Regions from separate parts of the Homo sapiens genome. Here region 1 is linked to region 2. Evidence: fine-mapped expression QTL. Tissue or cell type: cerebellum. Region 2 holds a variant in brackets; the other region holds the start of a gene. All regions are shown on one strand. Distances are from middle to middle.

The links. PIP is the estimated chance that this variant, and not a neighbour inherited with it, causes the effect.
Region 1: SSBP2 starts here. The variant in region 2 is fine-mapped to the expression of SSBP2 in cerebellum (GTEx, PIP 0.97).

What each region holds. Positions count from the first base shown.
Region 1 is chr5:81,748,346-81,755,657 of GRCh38, reverse strand. It overlaps SSBP2 (single stranded DNA binding protein 2), which reads left to right and starts at 4,561. Exons shown (of 17, transcript NM_001256732.3): 1 at 4,561-4,677. The coding sequence starts at 4,616. RefSeq lists a cis regulatory region at 767-852 and silencers at 3,660-4,009, 4,280-4,609, 4,780-4,829, 5,270-5,319, 5,540-5,699.
Region 2 is chr5:81,388,931-81,399,646 of GRCh38, reverse strand. It overlaps ACOT12 (acyl-CoA thioesterase 12), which reads left to right and starts at 5,513. Exons shown (of 15, transcript NM_130767.3): 1 at 5,513-5,659. The coding sequence starts at 5,533. The variant G/T (reference allele first, on the strand shown) is at 5,513.

The DNA of each region.
Region 1 (7,312 bases), 360 kb before region 2:
CATAGTTGCAATGACTATTCATTTCATTACTTTGGTACATGGCATTTGAGCATTTTGTGAATCTGAGCATGCTGGTCTCTTCTGCCTGGGAGTGAAGTTTCACAAGGTAATCTGAATGACAAACATCTCAGAGCTTGCTCACATTCCTTGGTGGAATAGTCACTTCTGAGAGAAAGAGGTGTGGCTTCGTGGTCTGGGAAAAGGACTGCCAGCCAGGAACATGGAGTTCTTCTTCTGGAACTAGTTCTGTTTTCTTTTTGGATCAGCTAATGCTAACGAATATATCTAGAACTCAGTTCACCCAGTTTAAAAAGCTGGTTAGGGAAATCTAATTAACTGGGATGTATTGAGTAATAATGAATGAATATCTGTTAAACGATTTGAAATGAAAAGTGGTATGAATGCAACTGAGTTATTTGTATAAACTGATTAGTTTTATGAAACAAATAAATAATAGAACAGTTTTATTTTTGGGGAATATTACTCTAAAACAAGAAAATTTATTTTAATGTTTAGTTTATTTTTCTAAATATTTTTATTTCTAAGTGGTTTTAAGTTAATAAGCTAAATGTTCTGTATGATGCACATAATTAAATTCATGATTAGCTTCCATTTAAACATAAAGAGGTGGTCTCTTTGTTGTATATAACAGGTAAATCTTTTCTGAGGTCTCATGCACTGTAAGAATGTAGACATTATTAACCTTAATGTTCTACAGAAAAAAAAGTTAGGATCAAAGAAATGTATAGTCAATCTAGAGCTTGAGCAGGGTGGCATAATGAACTGCCTGTTTTAAAGTGATAAAGACTTCCAAGAATTAGATGTAGGTTCCAGAAAGAGAAAATTGTGCACACGTGTCCAAACGAAATGGGGGTACAGATGAGGGAGACCTAATGATTGAGTTATTGTGATGTTCTATATCTGAAAGAGTAAAGTTTTTTTAAAAAATCAACCTCAATTCCAAATGTTCCATTCTGGTGACATTGCTGGTCAGGGTTCCCCTATGCCAAATCCAGGCTCCCCAAATTCATCAATCTCATATGTGGGTTAAAAAAAAAACTCTAAAAATACATTGTGATTCTCTACACTAGGAAGCTTTAAATCTCCAATCTTTTCCCTTTTTAAAAAATGAAAACAAAACAATGGATCTTCATTTTTGTGTCTGGGATCTCAAATTTGGCTCTGAATATGTGTTTCAAATCTCATTAATTACAATATTGGTCCCAGGAGATACAGTTGCTGATGCAAAGAACACTCTTTGTACTCAACATAATTTGAACAAGGGCAAAGAAGCATTTTATTTACATGTGAAAACATTTAGAGGAAAATAAAACAGAGATGGTTCAGGTAGCTGCTGAGCTGTTTTAATGATAATTGATTTGATTACTTAAGCTTTAAGGTTACTATATACAGGATACATATACATATAAAAGTCATGTTTTCACTTTGTATATTTGTCAGATGAGAACATTCTTATAAAGGTAACTCTGACATTAACTTCGCAAGTTCTGAACTAAGACCTTTTAGCATTTTATTCTTTCCAAAGACTAAGACCAAATTGTTCTAAATTCCATACCCCACTGTGCAGATCTATAATTTATTTATTTTTTAAACATCAGAAAATATGCCATTACCCATAGGACTTCCAAATGTAACAAATCTGGGTAAAAACCAATCAAATGAATAAATTATAGCAGTAGACAGCAAACAGTTTCTCCTGTTCTCTTTCTTCATTTTCCTTTCTCTATAGGAAATAGCAAATTAAACCATGGCTATTCATGATCTTGTACTATGAGAACACATATGGGCATACATTTTTGTCCTATTAACAAGTTTGTTGGCTTGGTGGCAGAAAGTAAAGTACACTGTAAAGACATCTTAATGCTTTGAGTAGGGTCATTTGTTAATGGACAGCCCAACCTAAAAGTCTTGTACTAATCTCTTATGGTACCCATTGGCTGTCTTTAAATGGATACTGAAGAGCAAAGGCAGGCAGCCCTGGTTATACACAAGAACCACGTGGAGCTTATGAAAAAAATGCAGGTACCTGGGTCCATCCCCAAGGTTTCTGATCCAGTTAGTATATAAACAAACAAACAAAACCCAACAACAATGAAAATAAAGGCAATTCTAACGTGCCATGATTGAGAACCATAGTTAAGAGAGTCCCAACACCAGTGCAAGGATAATACCTACTTTGTTTTTGGATAGTAGGACAAAGCCCACCCTTGGTTCGTTTTTCCAGGGGCAGGCAGGAGGGTGTCTGAGAAGCTGCCAGAGCTCTCTGAGAACTGACAGCATTCTCTGAGCAGCACCTTTATAGGGAGTATTCTATAAGAGATGGAGCCTTGATATACTAAAAATTTTCTGGGTTAAGGCCAATGGAAGTAGATAATTGAACAAAAAAATTACATAATGCTAACCTTGAAGTTGAGTCTGTAAACTGTGGCAACCTTATACACATTTGAGCATTTTGAGCAAAAGTTCATTAAGAGAGGCTGACTGGCTCAGCTTCGCTTCAATCACCCAATCATTGCAGGTCATTAGAAACAAAAAGAAGAATATGAATGCCATATCCTAACCACCCAATAACTGTAGGTCATTAGAAACTGACAGAAGAATTCTTAAGTCAGAAATGGCAAATTACATCTCTTGGAAATTAATCTACTTAAGCCAGTGTATTTTTTTCCCCCACTTTTCCCCCCTCATTTCCTTTATTGGCTTAATTTTTGTCCTTTTAATAAAAGTGCTTTTTTTCTTATATCTTTTTTTTAACGATAATGTCTGTCCTCTATTACTTTTAATCTTTTGCTATCACACTCTATGGCTTCTTCATTTAATCCTGTATCTTCTAGTCTTCTCATCTTTTTATACCTCACTTTCCTCATGTTTTTTTCCTTGTCATTAACACCAGTATAGAAAGTCCTTCCTCTTCATTTTCCCGTCTTTATGTCTGGTTGCCAACCGCGTTTTTGATTCTCGACCTCTCACTTTTGCTAACTGCCCTTCCTTAATCATCTGTTGATGTTTTATTCCTATCACTTCTGTCAATGCTCACACCCATTTCTTTCCTTTCCATCTATCTGTATATCTCCATATGCATTTTATGATCCTCCTACTAAATGCTTAAAGCTGTGTGTGTGTGGAATAGAACGGTACCTTCCTCCACGCGAATCCGATTTCCCTCTCCTCCCATAGCTACTTCTTGTCTATTCATCCTTTCCAGATGTCGCCCTGTCCCACCCCATCTGTCCCCTTCTTCCCCGTGTGAAGCCCATCTTCTTTCTAACCCCATTTGCACCCGTCTGATTTTACAGTCAAGGACTTCAATAAGATAAATGATGCAGAGTTCTACTGGGAACCAGATTGTGTGTGTTTCTGAAACTTTTGCGCGTTTACTGAAATGGGATTAGGGATTTGGATACAGAAACATTCTCGGGCAGCCTTTCAGCCCTGGCACAGCTTTGTACACCTTGGAGCGCGCTGGGGCCTATTCTAACGGGCAAGGACAGGGAAGTCTTTCAAGACCTTTTCTGGCCTTTTCCACTCCAGGGGTCAGGATGAATAGGCATCACTGACCCAAACTGTTAAACCAGGCCGGGTGGGGAAGCCTGGGGCCCTCTTCTGCGGCAGATCTGGCGGGGTGTCCAGGGCGCCGCGGGGCTCCGTGCAAGAAGGGGTTGGGGCAGGGGCCGCTGCGGCCGCAGGAGTCACCGGGCCTCCTCGGGAGGTCCGCTCACCTCTTACAGAGGAGGCCGACCCCAGGCCGGGTGCTCCCCTGGGGCGCAGGGCGCGGCCCCGGGCGCCGCCACCGCAGCGGCGCCGAGGGCCGGAGGTGCAGCCTTTCCCCAGGAGAGAAGGCGAGTCGCTGTCGGTCGCTCAGCCAGAAGGTCGAGGGAACCGCGCGGGTGTCCCTCGCCAGCCGGCCCTCTGGGAACAGGGCGGGGGCGACACCCCAGGGAGTAGGGCTGAGGACCGCAAAAATCAATCGTGGGTACCGGCGCGGGGTCACGCATAGGAGAGGAGCGGGAGAGGGGCTGGTGGGGGCCCCAGGGCGGCTGAGGCCGTGGCTCTGTCGTGGACTCGGCGGGCGCCCCGAAGTCTGGGGCCGCCACGGCTCCAGCTCCGCCGGCTCCGGCCGGAGACTCCAGGCCGCAGTTTCTCCTCCTCCCGGCGCCTTCTCTCCAGTGAGGAGCTGAGCGCGGGCGGCGCGGGGGGAGGGGTGGCGGCGGAGAGAACAGCCAGTTGTTTAAAATCCTTCTAGAGCAGTTTCTAATTCCCCCCTTGCGCCCGGGTTCGGAGGGGGGAGGGGGAAGGAGAGCGGGTGGAGGGAGGAGAGCGGAGAGGGAAGGCGGGAGGGAGGGAGTCGGGGAGGGAGGGAAGGAGGGAGGAGACTGCCGCTGAGGCTTAGCCGCCACCGCGCGCTTCGGAAGGCCAGAGGGAGGGGGAGGCCTGTCAGTCTCGCGCGTTGCCTGGGCGAAGGGGGCGGAGCTTTGGCGTGGGGCGGCCAATAGTGGGGGTGGCTGCGTGGGTCGCCATGGGGACGGGGCTGTTCCCGGGGAGGCTGTGATGGGTTGACAGGTGCGTGACAGTGGGAGCTGCTCTCGGCACAAGCATGTACGGCAAAGGCAAGAGTAACAGCAGCGCCGTCCCGTCCGACAGCCAGGCCCGGGAGAAGTAAGTGTCTCCGCTTCTCACCCACCTCCGCCTTCACACGCGCGCACACTCACGCACGCACTCGCACACTCTGGGAGACACAGACACTCTCCGCCCGGGGAGCGCCGGGGGTGGGCTGGCAGGGGGAGGGGTGCCGCGATGGGGGCGTGTGGTGCGGGGAGCTGCGCTTTCCCGGGAGGTGCGGGCGCTGGGCGGGCGGCCGCAGGGGGCTGTCGGCGGGAGGGACCGGGTGTGTTGAGGGGCGGCGGTGGTGCTGGTGGCGAGGATGGAAACTTGTTTGGGTGATTGAGGGAAATAACCCGCGGGTTCACCTTCCAAAGTAACTTTAGAGCTGGGGTCCGGGGCTCCGGGGACCTGGGGAGCCGCCGGGGGTGGCGGGAGGGGCAGCTGCGTGGAGGAAGGCGCGCAGTGGGAATGTGGGTGTTTGGCGGGCCGGCCGGGGTCGGGGCCGGGGTCGGGGCGGGCAGCGCGGGGAGCGCGGCGGCGGGGGCCTGGGCGCTGGGGCTTAGGGCCGCGAGCGCGGGGCGAGGCGAGGCGAGGGCGGCGGTGCCGGGCGCGCGGCGGGCGGAAGCCGGGCGTGGAGCGGCCGAGCGGGGCCCCGCGGGGCGCGGAGACGCGCGCGGGGCGCGGAGGGCGTGTGCGGGTTGGGCGTCCGGGCTTTCCTGGGCCAGCTACGGACGCGGCGCCCGCAGTCCCCCGCGCATCGCGGGGCTGGGGCTGGGGCTGGGGCGGGGGCGGGGGCGGGTGGGCGCCGGAGACGCCGCCGAAGTTTGGGAGTCGGAGAGGGACCGAGTTCCCGGGGAGCTAAAGTGTGTTGGCGAGGAGCGGGATCCGCTGGAGGAGGCTGGCGTTTCTGCCTCTCGCAGCGGACCCAACTCCGCGGCGGCGGCTGGCGAACTTTTTGTGAGGCTGGCAGCCCCCGAGCGGCGGGAGGGGCGGGCCCGGCGGGGCGGTGGTCGGGGGCGCGCGGAGGGGAGTTGTGGGAGCCGCCGGGGGCGCCCGAGGAGGGCAGCTGTGGCGGGGAGGGCCAGTGGTCCGAAAAGGGGTTTGTGGGAGGGGAGAAGCGTTCAGGTGGGAAGGAGCCGCTTGGTTACAGTTGTGGGGAGATACAGGTGTTAACTTCGGTGGGAGCCCAAGAGGCGGCTGGCGAGAACAGAGCCCCTCCCGGCCCGGGATGCCACTGTCACGGCACACTGCAAAGCAAAGCGGTTTGCTGCTATTCTTGTGTACTTGTAACGGTGATTTGGTTGTTACTAAAAATGAGAACGAATAGTGACTGTGATCACTGAGGAAGAACCCCCCCCTTTTTTTTTTAAACTGTGCAACAGATCAGTGATTCCCAGTAACCACTTAAACTCTGAGGGTCAGAGTTATCCTTGTCGTTGAACGCACCCTGTCTTTCTGAGGGGGTTCAGACCAGAGAAAAAGTCTGAGAGCATCTCTCAAAGGTACTTTGGTTACCTTGCGCACAGAAATAGCTGCGTAAATAAAAACCGAATGCGCAGGCGACTGAGTTTCCCTCCTTGGTTTAGGCAGTTAGTCTCCCCCTGAAAGTTTTGTGTGCCCTAGGGATGGGAACATTTCCTAATCTTTGTGTTGGCAGCAACACACTCAATTCCCATAGGATTTAGAGGTATCAGGCCTTGATGTAGCAAAGCAAAACAAAACAAAACAAAAATTAGAGAGGCTTTTTTGTTTTTTTGCAAGAGATATTTTCTGAGCTGCATTCAGGATCTTGTTGCTGTGACAAGTAGTATATAAAAGACATAGCGTTATAGCCTGGTTAAGAAACGGCAGTTACTAGAATTGAAGTTTTGAAATGCAGTCTCATTTGTGTGCATTAATCATTTTGTTATAATGTGCCTGATAAAAACATCTGAAGGAGGATGTTTTAATGATCACAGAATATTTGAATTTCACATTAGTCAGAGTGATTGAAATGTATTGAGGCATGATCTTATTTTGGGGGTGACTGAATTTGAGAATCAAAGTAATTTTAGATTTTAGGTGAACTTCCAGGAAGGGGTGAACTTTAGTTGAATCCCACTCAGTATCCTGAGGACTGCTTGATTTTTTTTTTTAGTTTCTCAGATAATAACAAGGATGTTGGAACTTGCATAACTGTGGTCCTTTCTAGCTCTAATTCTGTGATTTCCCACCAGGAAAACAAATAATTGCCACTTTGCTGTCAAATCTACCAAACTGAACACCAAGTAATATCTACTCTCGTGAGCAGATCAGGGTTCTGCTAGATGGTGCTATTTGATTTAAATATATTTCTTCCATTCATTTCAATTGGCAGCAGGAATTCTTGACTGGTTTGCCTTATGAACTTAAATATAGGTGAAGAGGCCGCTTTTGGAGAATTGACAATGACTGTTCTGGGTTAATTGTCGTTGCATTAATTTCTAGGTTAATGTTGTTTGAATCTAAGACAAACATCGACGTAGGTTCTGTCTTATAGAATAAACTTAATTTCATCTTGGTGGGAGAGTTGATCTAATCTCTCGGTTTTTCTCTTTATGTTTACTTGGGACTTTAATGGCACTATTCTGCAACAATGTACTAACATCTGAAGGTAGGAATCTTGAAGTCATCATTAAAATGGATGTCACCAGATTTTTGTTCTTAATTT
Region 2 (10,716 bases):
AAAAAAAAAACAAACTAATGTGTAAATTGAGTGATACATTCGAGTTCAACACTAGCAAGGATAGGGTCTAACTCAGACACAAACACATCTCTCCAGACCCAAGACTGTGACCCTTTTCCCCGCATCACAAATTCCTTTACAGGTCTGAAAAGGCCCCCTGTTAAACTGAAGATGTTCTTGGGAAGGACTGCACTGTAAGCTTTACTCTTTTAAAGAAAGACACCATACGGCAGTAGTTTTTAACATACTGTGCAGCAGAAGCACATGGAAAAATTGTTAAAAACAGGTTATTGGCTGGGTGTGGTGGCTCACGCCTGTAATCCCAGCACTTTGGGAGGCCGAGGCGGGTGGATCACAATGTCAGGAGTTCGAGACCAGCCTGACCAACATGATGAAACCCCGTCTCTACTAAAAATACAAAAATTAGAATGGCATGGTGGCATGTGCCTGTAATCCCAGCTACTCAGGAGGCTGAGGCAGGAGAATCGCTTGAACCCAGGTGGCGGAGGTTGCAGTGAGCCGAGACTATGCCATTGCACTTCAGCCTGGCCAACAGAGCGAGACTCCATGTCAAAAAAAAAAAAGTTACTGGCCCCACCCCTGGAATTTCGGATTCAGTATGTATGGGTTGAGCTGGAAAATCTTGAGAACCACTCCCCTAAGGGGAAGTAGCTGAAAGCTGGCTTAGAAAGCAGGAAATGGTGTGGGCAGGAGAGATCTGGGGAAAGCCAGGGAGGCAGGAAGGGGCAGCTTTAAGAGCCAGCCAGAGAGGGGAGGGCTCTGCCAGATGGAAGAAAAAGCACCAGATCAGGCTCTAGCTCAATCTCAGTCTTTGGCAAATCACCTTTTCTGAGATAAAAAGGAGTAATTCTTTTAAAAACAAGCTACCACAGCTCACCCCATACGAAATAATTTGAGTACCCCTGTAACTGTTTCAAAAATCGAATTAATGGCCGGGTGTGGTGGCTCACACCTGTAATCCCAGCACTTTGGGAGGCTGAGGCGGGAGGATCATGAGGTCAGGCATTCGAGACCCACCCGGCAACATAGTGAAACCCCGTCTACTAAAAATACAAAAAATTAGCTGGGTGTGGTGGCGGACACCTGTAATCCCAACTACTCAGGAGGCTGAGGCAGGAGAATTGCTTGAACCTGGGAGGCAGAGGTTGCAGGGAACAGAGATCGTGCCATTGCACCCCAGCCTGTGCGCCACTGTGAGACTCCGTCTCAAAAAAAAAAAAAAAAAAAAAAAATTTTAAACTTCCAAAAAAAATCTTCAGGGCCCAGATAGTTTCACTGGAGAATTCTACCAAAAGTGTAAAGAACACCAAATATATACAGTCTTTTTCAGAATACATGGTGGGGGAACATTTCCCGATTCATTTTATGAACCCTGACACCAAAACCAGACAAAGACAGTTTTAAAGAAAGAAAACTGCAGACCAACATGTCCCAAAAATACAGACATAGAAATTCTTATTAAAATATTAGTAAATGGAAATCTGCAATATATAGAAAGAATTGTATACCATGAGCAAGTGGGATGCAGTATTTGAAAACAATGTGCTCCAACATATTCACAGGCAGTGGTGGTGACCGCAAAGGGACTCCACTGAGCAGTAATCAATGGCCTGGGATGAAAGTGGGGCCAAACAAATCTGGGGAAGCAGAAAAATTAGATTCTATACACATGGCTTTTGTTCAAACAAAATAAAGCTCTGTACTCCACACAAATGTGGTGGCTGTTAGGTTCTACACCTAATGCTTGACAGAAAGAAGGGGCCACCGGAAGTGCAGGGACAAACAGGAGCAAGGTTATCTTGAGGCTCCAGGTGCTAAGAGGGACAGTCCAAGCAGAAAACCCATTCCCCAAAGTCACTGCCATCCCTAGAGCAGGGTTCAGGGGCAGAGAAGGACAGGAGACCCTCCAGTCAAGAAGTTGGCGGCCAAAAGCTGAGAAAACCCATCCTGGAATTTTTGCTTAGGGGCTCTGAGTTTAAACTTTGAACCACATCCTTATAAATTTGTATTTGAATTTGGAAACACTGACCTGACACCTTTTAAAACATACCAAATGTAGAGAGAGAGTTTGATGGCTAATCAAGTTCATCTCTGTATGAAGTACTTGAACTAGCAAACCCTCTGTCTGGGACATATCTCCCACAATGGAAAGGCTCCCGGCTGCCTCTGCTGTTCAGGACAGTAAGGATTTTGGCTCTCTGCCTTGCCCACATGGCCACGGCACTCACCATTCTGAGTCCTAGTCCAAGCTGACAGCGTCTTCCTGTCCTACTGAGATAAAGCTCCAGCTGAAAGCTTGCTCTTGCTCTGAAATCTGCAGAAGTCCTGGGGAGTTCATCTCCTGGGACCAGCCCTTAGTCAATGAAGGATGCCAGTCAGAGGATAAAAACCCCAGGGTTCATGCCAGTGGGAGGGATGGCTGGGGCTGTTCTTCACAAACTGTAATGTGCCCCTGAATCACCTAGGAATCTTAATAAAATTTAGACTCTAATTCAGTAGGTCTGAGTTGGAGCCTGAAATTCTGCATTTATAATTTTTTCTTTTCTTTTCTTTTCGAGACAGGGTCTCACTGTGTCACTCAGACTGAAGTGCAGTGGCCCAATCATGGCTCACTGCAGCCTCGACCTCCTGGGCTCAAGCAATCCTCCCACCTCAGCCTCCCAAAGTAGCTGGGACCACAGGCATATGCTACCTTTCCTGGCTAATTTTTAAATTTTTTTTTTTTTTTTATAGAGACAAGGTCTCTCTATGTTACTCAGGCTGGTCTCAAACTCCTAGGATGAAGTGATCCTCCTGCCTCAGCATCCCAAAGTGCTGGGATTATAAGCATGAGCCAACACTCCCGGCCTGAGATTCTGCATTTCTAAGAGGATCCTAGGTGAGGCTGAGGCTGCTTACCTGGGGACTACACTTTGATGCCCCTACCAGTGCTTTCTGCAATTTCCTCCCAAATAAACTGTCTGCTCTCAAATTCTTGTCAGAGGCTCTGTTTCTGGAGAAAGCATTTTTTTTTCTACCTCTCTACTTATATTCCAGGTTCCTTGTTCTTAGTTTTCACAAAACCCAGCCACTACCTTACAATGTGACCCAAGGAAATCACTTCATTTCCTCATCTCTAGAATAAGAGTTTAGACTGTCCAGTTCCCCTTCCCACTCCAGCATTTTAAAGATTTTCTCGTTATTCTAGTGATTGTGGAACTTCCCACACTTTTTTGGATCAGCTTTCCTGCTCCTGTGTACAAACTTTTAAAATCAAGCTGGCTTCACATTCTGCTTATCTTCAAAAATGTCTCTAAACACAAATGAAACTCGACCTTTTATTCAAGCATAATAGTAAAAATCTTTGACACCAGAGAGAAATGGAGGTAACAAATGTTCATGCATGCAGATGACATTTTCATTGTAAAAGGAAGAAAGGGACCATTCAGAAAAACACAAGAATAGTAAAATGAAAATTAGTATGAAACCAACAAAAGATATGAAACCATAATCTGAAGACATCTAAACAGGAGATAATAAAGATAAGAAAACACAGCAGTGAATTTGTGTACCATGTCTGCTTTTAAAGCAACATCTCTAGACAAACACACAAATATACACATGCTGTCCCCTTCAAGAAAATCATTTTGGAAACCCATCCTCTTACACTTATGCGTAAACATTTTTGAAATTTCTTCTTCTTTTTCTTTTTTTTTTTTTTTTTTTTTGAGACTCAAGCTCACTGCAACCTCTGCCTTTTTGGCTCAAGTGATCCTCCTGCCTCAGCCTCCTGAGTAGCTGGGACCACAGGGACACACCACCACGCCCAACTAATTCTTGTATTTTTGGTAGAGAGAGGGTTTCACCATGTTGCTCAGGCTGGTCTTGAACTCCTGAGCTCAAGCAATTTACCTAACCTCAGCCTCCCAAAGTGCTGGGATTATAGGCATGAGCCACTGCGCCTGGCCTAAGTTTCTTTAGTTTATAAGAAACCAAGTATACAACCATACACATAATTCAATATCACCACTTTAGTCACCACTTTTTACCCAAAATAATACAACCCAGCCTAAATGCAAACTTTATTTCCAGTAATTTAATAAACTTCCCAAATATTAATACAGTTCACTCATGTAACTGTCAGCTATTGCTGCATAACAGACAACCCCCAAAATCACAGTGGCACACAACAATAAGTAGTTATGTCTCACTCAAGAGTCTTCATGTCTGCTGGGTTGCTCTGCTTCAGGCTGTGAGTCCTCCGGCTGGCTGAGATGCCTCTGCAATACGTGAATTCAGTCTGGTACCCAGATGCTAATAGGCAGCTACTTGACCTCATGGCAGAGGTCAGATGTTCCTGAGAACAGAAACACGGTGCTTCTAAAGGCAAGACTGGTGGTACACTGCTATCTCTCCACATTCCATTCTTAAGCAAGCCACATGGCCAAGTCCAAGGTCAATAAATGACTCTCACAGAGTTATTGGTAGATGGAGTGAATATATGATAATCTATCAATTCCTAAATTATGATTTCTCAATACAGAAGTCATTAAAAAGGCATTTTCCAAGGAGGAGTGCCAAAAGCGATGTAATAACGTTATCATTGAAATAAGTGTATAGCTACATAATGGGACCATCTTGGATGCACAAGTTTTTGTTTGCTTTTAAAAGTTATTTTAATGCCTTTTATATAAGTCAGACTTCATGCTTGCCTCAGTGAAAACATGCAATTCCTATTTATGATTGGATTGTCCTGAAACCTATACACAGAGGCTCCTAAAAGCTATCAAGTCAACATTTCCTTATTTCTTCACTTTCATTTTAAAAAAAATCTTTTAAAAAGGAAAGAAAAATACCAGAATCTCCATTCTGATGTCGCCATGCTGAGGCTTGGCAAGCCAAAAATATAAGGATGAAAAGGCACCACCAATTCGTGAGAGTCGGCTAGGCTTCTTCGTGCTATTCCGGACAGTCAGGAGCCCTGGGTTCCAGCCAGGTGATCGGGTCGCTTATCGGCTCCTATCACCTCAGCTGCTTGCTCCACTTCTCCGGGTTTCCAGTTCTCCATCGTAAATGTGCTCCCTGGAGCAGCCTCCCCTGACAGTCAGACATCCACCAATCCATTAGATGCTGGAGGTTTTCTGGAGACACTGTTTCCCTAATGAGGACTGCTTTGTACAGTCACTGATAGCAGCTCTAGAAAGTGTAACAGCTTTTTTATCTCAAAAGCTGTTCCTCGCGCTCCGGCTCTCGGGGAGCCGCCTTCCAGACCTGTCTACCCGGGAGCCCCCTCCCCGCGCACTTCCCAGACTTCTCCTGAGACCCGAGAGCGCTGGTTTTCCCCCACTCGCGATAGTCCTGGGATGACAGTGCGGGCCCCCTCACTCGCAGCTCCCACCACCTGGCGGCCAGGGGTTCGCGGCCCGGGCGGGCGGCGCCAGTGCCCTCTGGAGCTGGGCGGGGAGGGCGGGGCGGGCGGAGCGGGCATGGTGGGGTGTCGGGGGCCGCAGGC[G/T]TAGCGCTCTCGCCCTGGCCATGGAGCGGCCGGCGCCCGGCGAGGTGGTCATGAGCCAAGCCATCCAGCCGGCGCACGCCACTGCGCGCGGCGAGCTGAGCGCGGGGCAGCTGCTCAAGTGGATCGACACCACCGCCTGCCTGGCGGGTAGGCGGGCGCCGGGGCTGCGGGGAGGCGCGGGACCGGGGCTGCGGGAGCGGCGGCGGCTGGGGGCTGGGGGGGGTAGGAAGGCGAGGAAGGTACTTGCGGAGAGCTGAACCCTGCGCAGCCAGGGATAGGGGTGTTGCAACAGTGCGCCCGCGCTGGGCATGGCCGAGACCGGTGGTTCCCAAATGTGTGGCTCTCGGGACTCCTTCATTCCATTAAACAAGTGAGGAGCCCAGAGAGCTTCTGCGGGGTTTTTTGTTTGTTTGTTTGTTGTTGTTGTTGTTGAGCTCTCTCCCGGGCTGGAGAGCGGTGGCGCCATCAGAGGTCGCTGCAGCCTCGACCTCCTGAGCTAAAGCGATCCTCCCACCTCAGCCTCCAGAGTAACTAGGACCACAGACGCACGCCACCAGGCCCAGCTGACTTTGGGAGTTTTGTTTTGTTTTGCTTTTGTAGAGATGGGGTCTCACTATGTTGCCCAGGCTGGTCTCAAACGCCTGGACTCAAGTGATCCTGAAGTGTTGGGAGGCCCCAGCCTCCCAAAGTGTTGGGATTACAGGCATGAGCCACCGCACCCAGGCAGCTTTTGTTTATGTAGGCTATTTATATCACATTTACCGTAATGGAAATTTAAAATTTTTAATTATTTTTAAAAAAGAAATGGACTACATTGTTAGCATAACATTTTTAATTAAGAAATAACTATTTTCCACAAGAACAAAAGTGTAGCGAGAGGAGTGGTGATAAAGGTTACATCCTGGCGAGTCTCTCTAAGGTCTGGCTAGTGGAGGATTGCTGACTACTCATACCTGCTTCTGCATTCACCCTGCTGCTACCACACCCTTATGTAGTCTCTGGAAAACTCCACTGTGTTCTTGTGACAGAATGACAGTAAAAATGGCAAAAACATTTATTAAGGACTGAATTATATCCCCCACACCACCCACCGAAATTTATACACTGAAGTCCTAACCCCTGGTGTGACTCTATTTGGAGTGAAGAATTAAGGCTAATGAGGTCATAAGAGTGGAATCCTGGTCCCATACAATTAATGTCCTTATAAGAAGAGACACTGGAGAGCTTCTCTCTGCCATGTGAGGCCACAGCAGGAAGACAGCCATCCACAGGCCAGGAAGAGAGCCCTCACTAGGACCTACAATGGGCAAGCACCTCGATTTGGAACTTCCCTGCCTCCACAATTGTGAGAAATCAATGATTCGTTTAAGCCTTTTTTTTTTTTAACAGGATTTGAGATTGGTTATATTAACAATGGAAACATGAATACAAAATTAATCCACACATAGGAAAAAAGAATAATACATAAACCACTGAGGTTGCTAATAATAATGATGCCTGTTTCCAAGGCAACTGAATACATTATGAGACCACTGAAGTGACTTTTAGTTACCTTGCTTAGTGCCTCTGTCTTGTGATGGAGAAACAATGGCCCACCTGCAATTGTCATCATTTCTATGACCTGACATCTTTGGAAACCATGGAAAGATCCAATTGACAATCAATTACTCTATACCTTAATAGTTACATTACTATTAGTAGTATAATATTAATAACTGATAATGTTACTAATATTAAGAAAACCTGTATGATAAAGTTGGTTTGGGCAACATGAATAACGCCTGTGTTAAACACTTTATGGTGACCTGAGGCACCACATAAGCAGGGGACATTATTTAGCCAAGGTGTAACTGAATCTGTGTAGTAATATAAAACTGATTTCTCTGGGATTTTCTCAGAGTTTTTTATAGGCCAGCATTATCTCTTTAGCCACATTACTGCAATCCCAGTCATGGCCCCCAAGGCATTTCTATGACCCCTAGGCACTGCTGGATTCCAAAATGTCTTCTCAATATTTAAAGAAAGATGAAATATTCTCACTATCCTTACTTCTGTCAGTGGCCCCATTATTTTTCCAGTCCCTTAAGTCTAAAGTCTTGAAGCTATCTGAGTAATCCTCTATCTCACACGTCCATGTATTATTTTGGAACATCTCACACACACGGTTTTTTATTTGTGAATCTTTTCCAGGGTTTACTATCTCTGGAGTGGCACCCAACTCATCTAGTTGAGCAAGTCAAAAGTCTAGGAGTCATCCTTGATATTTCTCTCTCCACCTTACTTCTCACTTCACATACTCTATGCATGGAGCAAGTCCTATCAGTGTTACCCCCTAAAGGAGTCTCTGAAATCCAAGCACTTTGCTGCACCCCCATTGCGACCATCTACTCCAAGCTATCATCATGTTTCATGCAGACTTCAGCAGTGATTTCCAAACTCATCTCCATTCGTTCTGGTCTCCTCTCCACACTGCTTCTAAAGTAATCTTTGAAGATGCTAATCTGATTGATCATGTCATATGTTTTGTTCATTTTTCCCTTTCTTTTCTTCACCAAGGGCTTTAAGGATTTTTCTAAGATGTTCAAGTGCTTCCTACTAAAAAATCTCCCACAGATAATAATTATAAACTCTGGGCAAAACACTAAATAAAAGAGACTTAAGGCAGGTGAAAAGTGAACAAAAGTAGGCTTATAACACTTGAAAGTTAACACATGAAAGAACAAAGTGGTGTTGGCTTTTTCTGTGTTTGTTTTATAAATGACTTGAAGCCTGAAAGAAAATGCCAGTCTGCTCCCAGCTATAGTTCTGATGGAAAACCCACAGGCTTGCTGGTTTGAAGAGCCCAAAGACAGGGTTTGGGAAAAGCACAGCTACTGAATGAAATACAAAAGGGAAAGTTCCAGAAAGGAAAGAGCCAGAGAGACAGAGCCCTAAAATCTATCTATAATCTTTTCCCAGATATCTGGCAAATCTTGAATCATGTATACATAGGACAGACTCCAAACCTCCTGGTTGAGGCCAAAAGAACTGAAAATAGTTGTGCCCATCTCTAGGTAGACAGATTATAGTTTTGGTTTGGTCAGGTTAACTGCTTGCTTTAAAAAACAAAACCAAAAACAAAACCAACACTTTTCAGAGAAACACAGTTTCTACAATGGATCACTCACAATGGCTAGGATATTATCCAAAATTACTTGAAATACAGAGGGAAACATGATTTATTCTTAAGAGAAAAGATGATCAATGGAGATTCATCCCTAGACAACCCTGATGCTGGAATTAAGCTTCAAGGATTTTAAAGCAGCTAGTATAACTGTGCTCAATAATATAATTAAAAATATGATAATAAAGATTGCTGTAATCCCAGCACTTTGGGAGGCTGAGGCAGGTGGATCACTTGAGGTCAGGAGTTCAAGACCAGCCTGGTCAACATGATGAAACCCTGTCTACTAAAAATACAAAAATTAGCCGGGTGTTGTGGCAGGTGCTTTTAATCCCAGCTACACAGGAGGCTGAGGCAGGAGAATCACTTGAATCTGGGAGGTGGAGATTGCAGTGAGCCGAGATTGTACCACTGCACTCCAGCCAGTGCTGGAGTCTCATTTGAGAATGAGACTCCATCTCAAAAGAAAAAGAAAAAGAAGAAAAAGATTGAAAAGACAGTACATTTCTGCAGAGTAATAGAAACTATTTTTTAAAAGCCAAATGGTAATTCCAGAACTGAAAAATACAGTGTCTAAAATAACAAACTCAATGGCTAGGCTTAACAGCAGAATGGACATGGCTGAGAAAAGAGTTAGTAAATGCAAAAATACATCAATATAAATTATCCAATCTAAGAACAGAAAAAAATGAATTTTAAAAATAAAGTGTGGCCAGGTACAATGGCTCATGCCTATAATCCTAGCACTTTGGGAGGCTCAGGTAGGAGGATGGTTTGAGCCCAGGAACTTGAGACCAGCCTGGGCAACATAGAGAGATCCTGTCTCTACCAAAAAAAGAAAATGTTAAAATTAGCCAGGCATGGTAGCATGTACCTGTAGTCCCAGCTACTCAGGAGGCTGAGGTGTGAGGATGACTTGAGCCTGGGAGGTCGAGGCTGCAGTGAGCCATGATTGCACCACTGTACTCCAGCCTGGGTAACAGAGCAAGACCCTGTCTCAAAAAAAAAAAAAAAAATACATAAATAAAATAAAGTGTCAGAGATTTGTGGAAAAATAAAACATAAACATAATTAGAGTTCCAAATATGGTGAAAGACATACAATTACAGATTCAAGGTCATAGAACATCAAGAAAAACTAATACAGGCTGGGCCTGGTGGCTCACACCTGTAATCCCAGTACTTTGGGAGGCTGAGGCAGGCAAATCACCTGAGGTCAGAAGTTCAAGACCAGCCTGGCCAACATGGTGAAATCCCATCTTTACTAAAAATACAAAAATTAGCTGGGCATGGTGGCGCACGCCTGTATTCCCAGCTACTCAGGAGGCTGAGCAGGAGAATCTCTTGAACCCAGGAGGCGGAGGTTGCAGTGAGCCAAGATTGTGCCACCACACTCCAGCCTGGATGACAGAGTGAGACTCTGTCTCCAATTTAAAAAAAGAAAGAAAGAAAAACTAATACAAAGAATACATCCAGGCATATCATAGTCAAACTATGATGAAGAGAAAATCTTGAATGCAGCCAGACTGAAACACCGTATATAGGAGAACAACAATTAGAATTACCACTGACCTCATCAGAAACAGTGGAGACCAGAAGGCAGTGCAACAATATCTTGAAGAATAATAATTACAAAAACTTTGAACCAAGAGCTTCAAGGCCCTGTGCATAGCCTGTCCTCAGCCTTCACTCCAGCCTCATCTCACCCACTCTCCCTCCTACTCTCTGCATTGCAGTCACCAGGACCTTTGTAGTCACTGTTCCCTCTGCTCAGCAGGCCTTCCCCTCCTCTGCCCTCCAGCCTTCCTGGATACCCCACCTAGTGTATTATCTCAGTTACTGACTGTCATAAAATCCCTGTTTTCTTCAGAGCACTTAGTCCATTTTGTCATTATGTATCTGTATTAGTCCATTTTCATGCTGCTGATAAAGACATATCTGAGACTGGGTAATTTATAAAGAAAAAGAGATTTAACGGACTCACAGTTCCATGTGGGTGGGGAAGCCTCACAATCATGGTGGAAGGTGGAAGGCACTTCTTA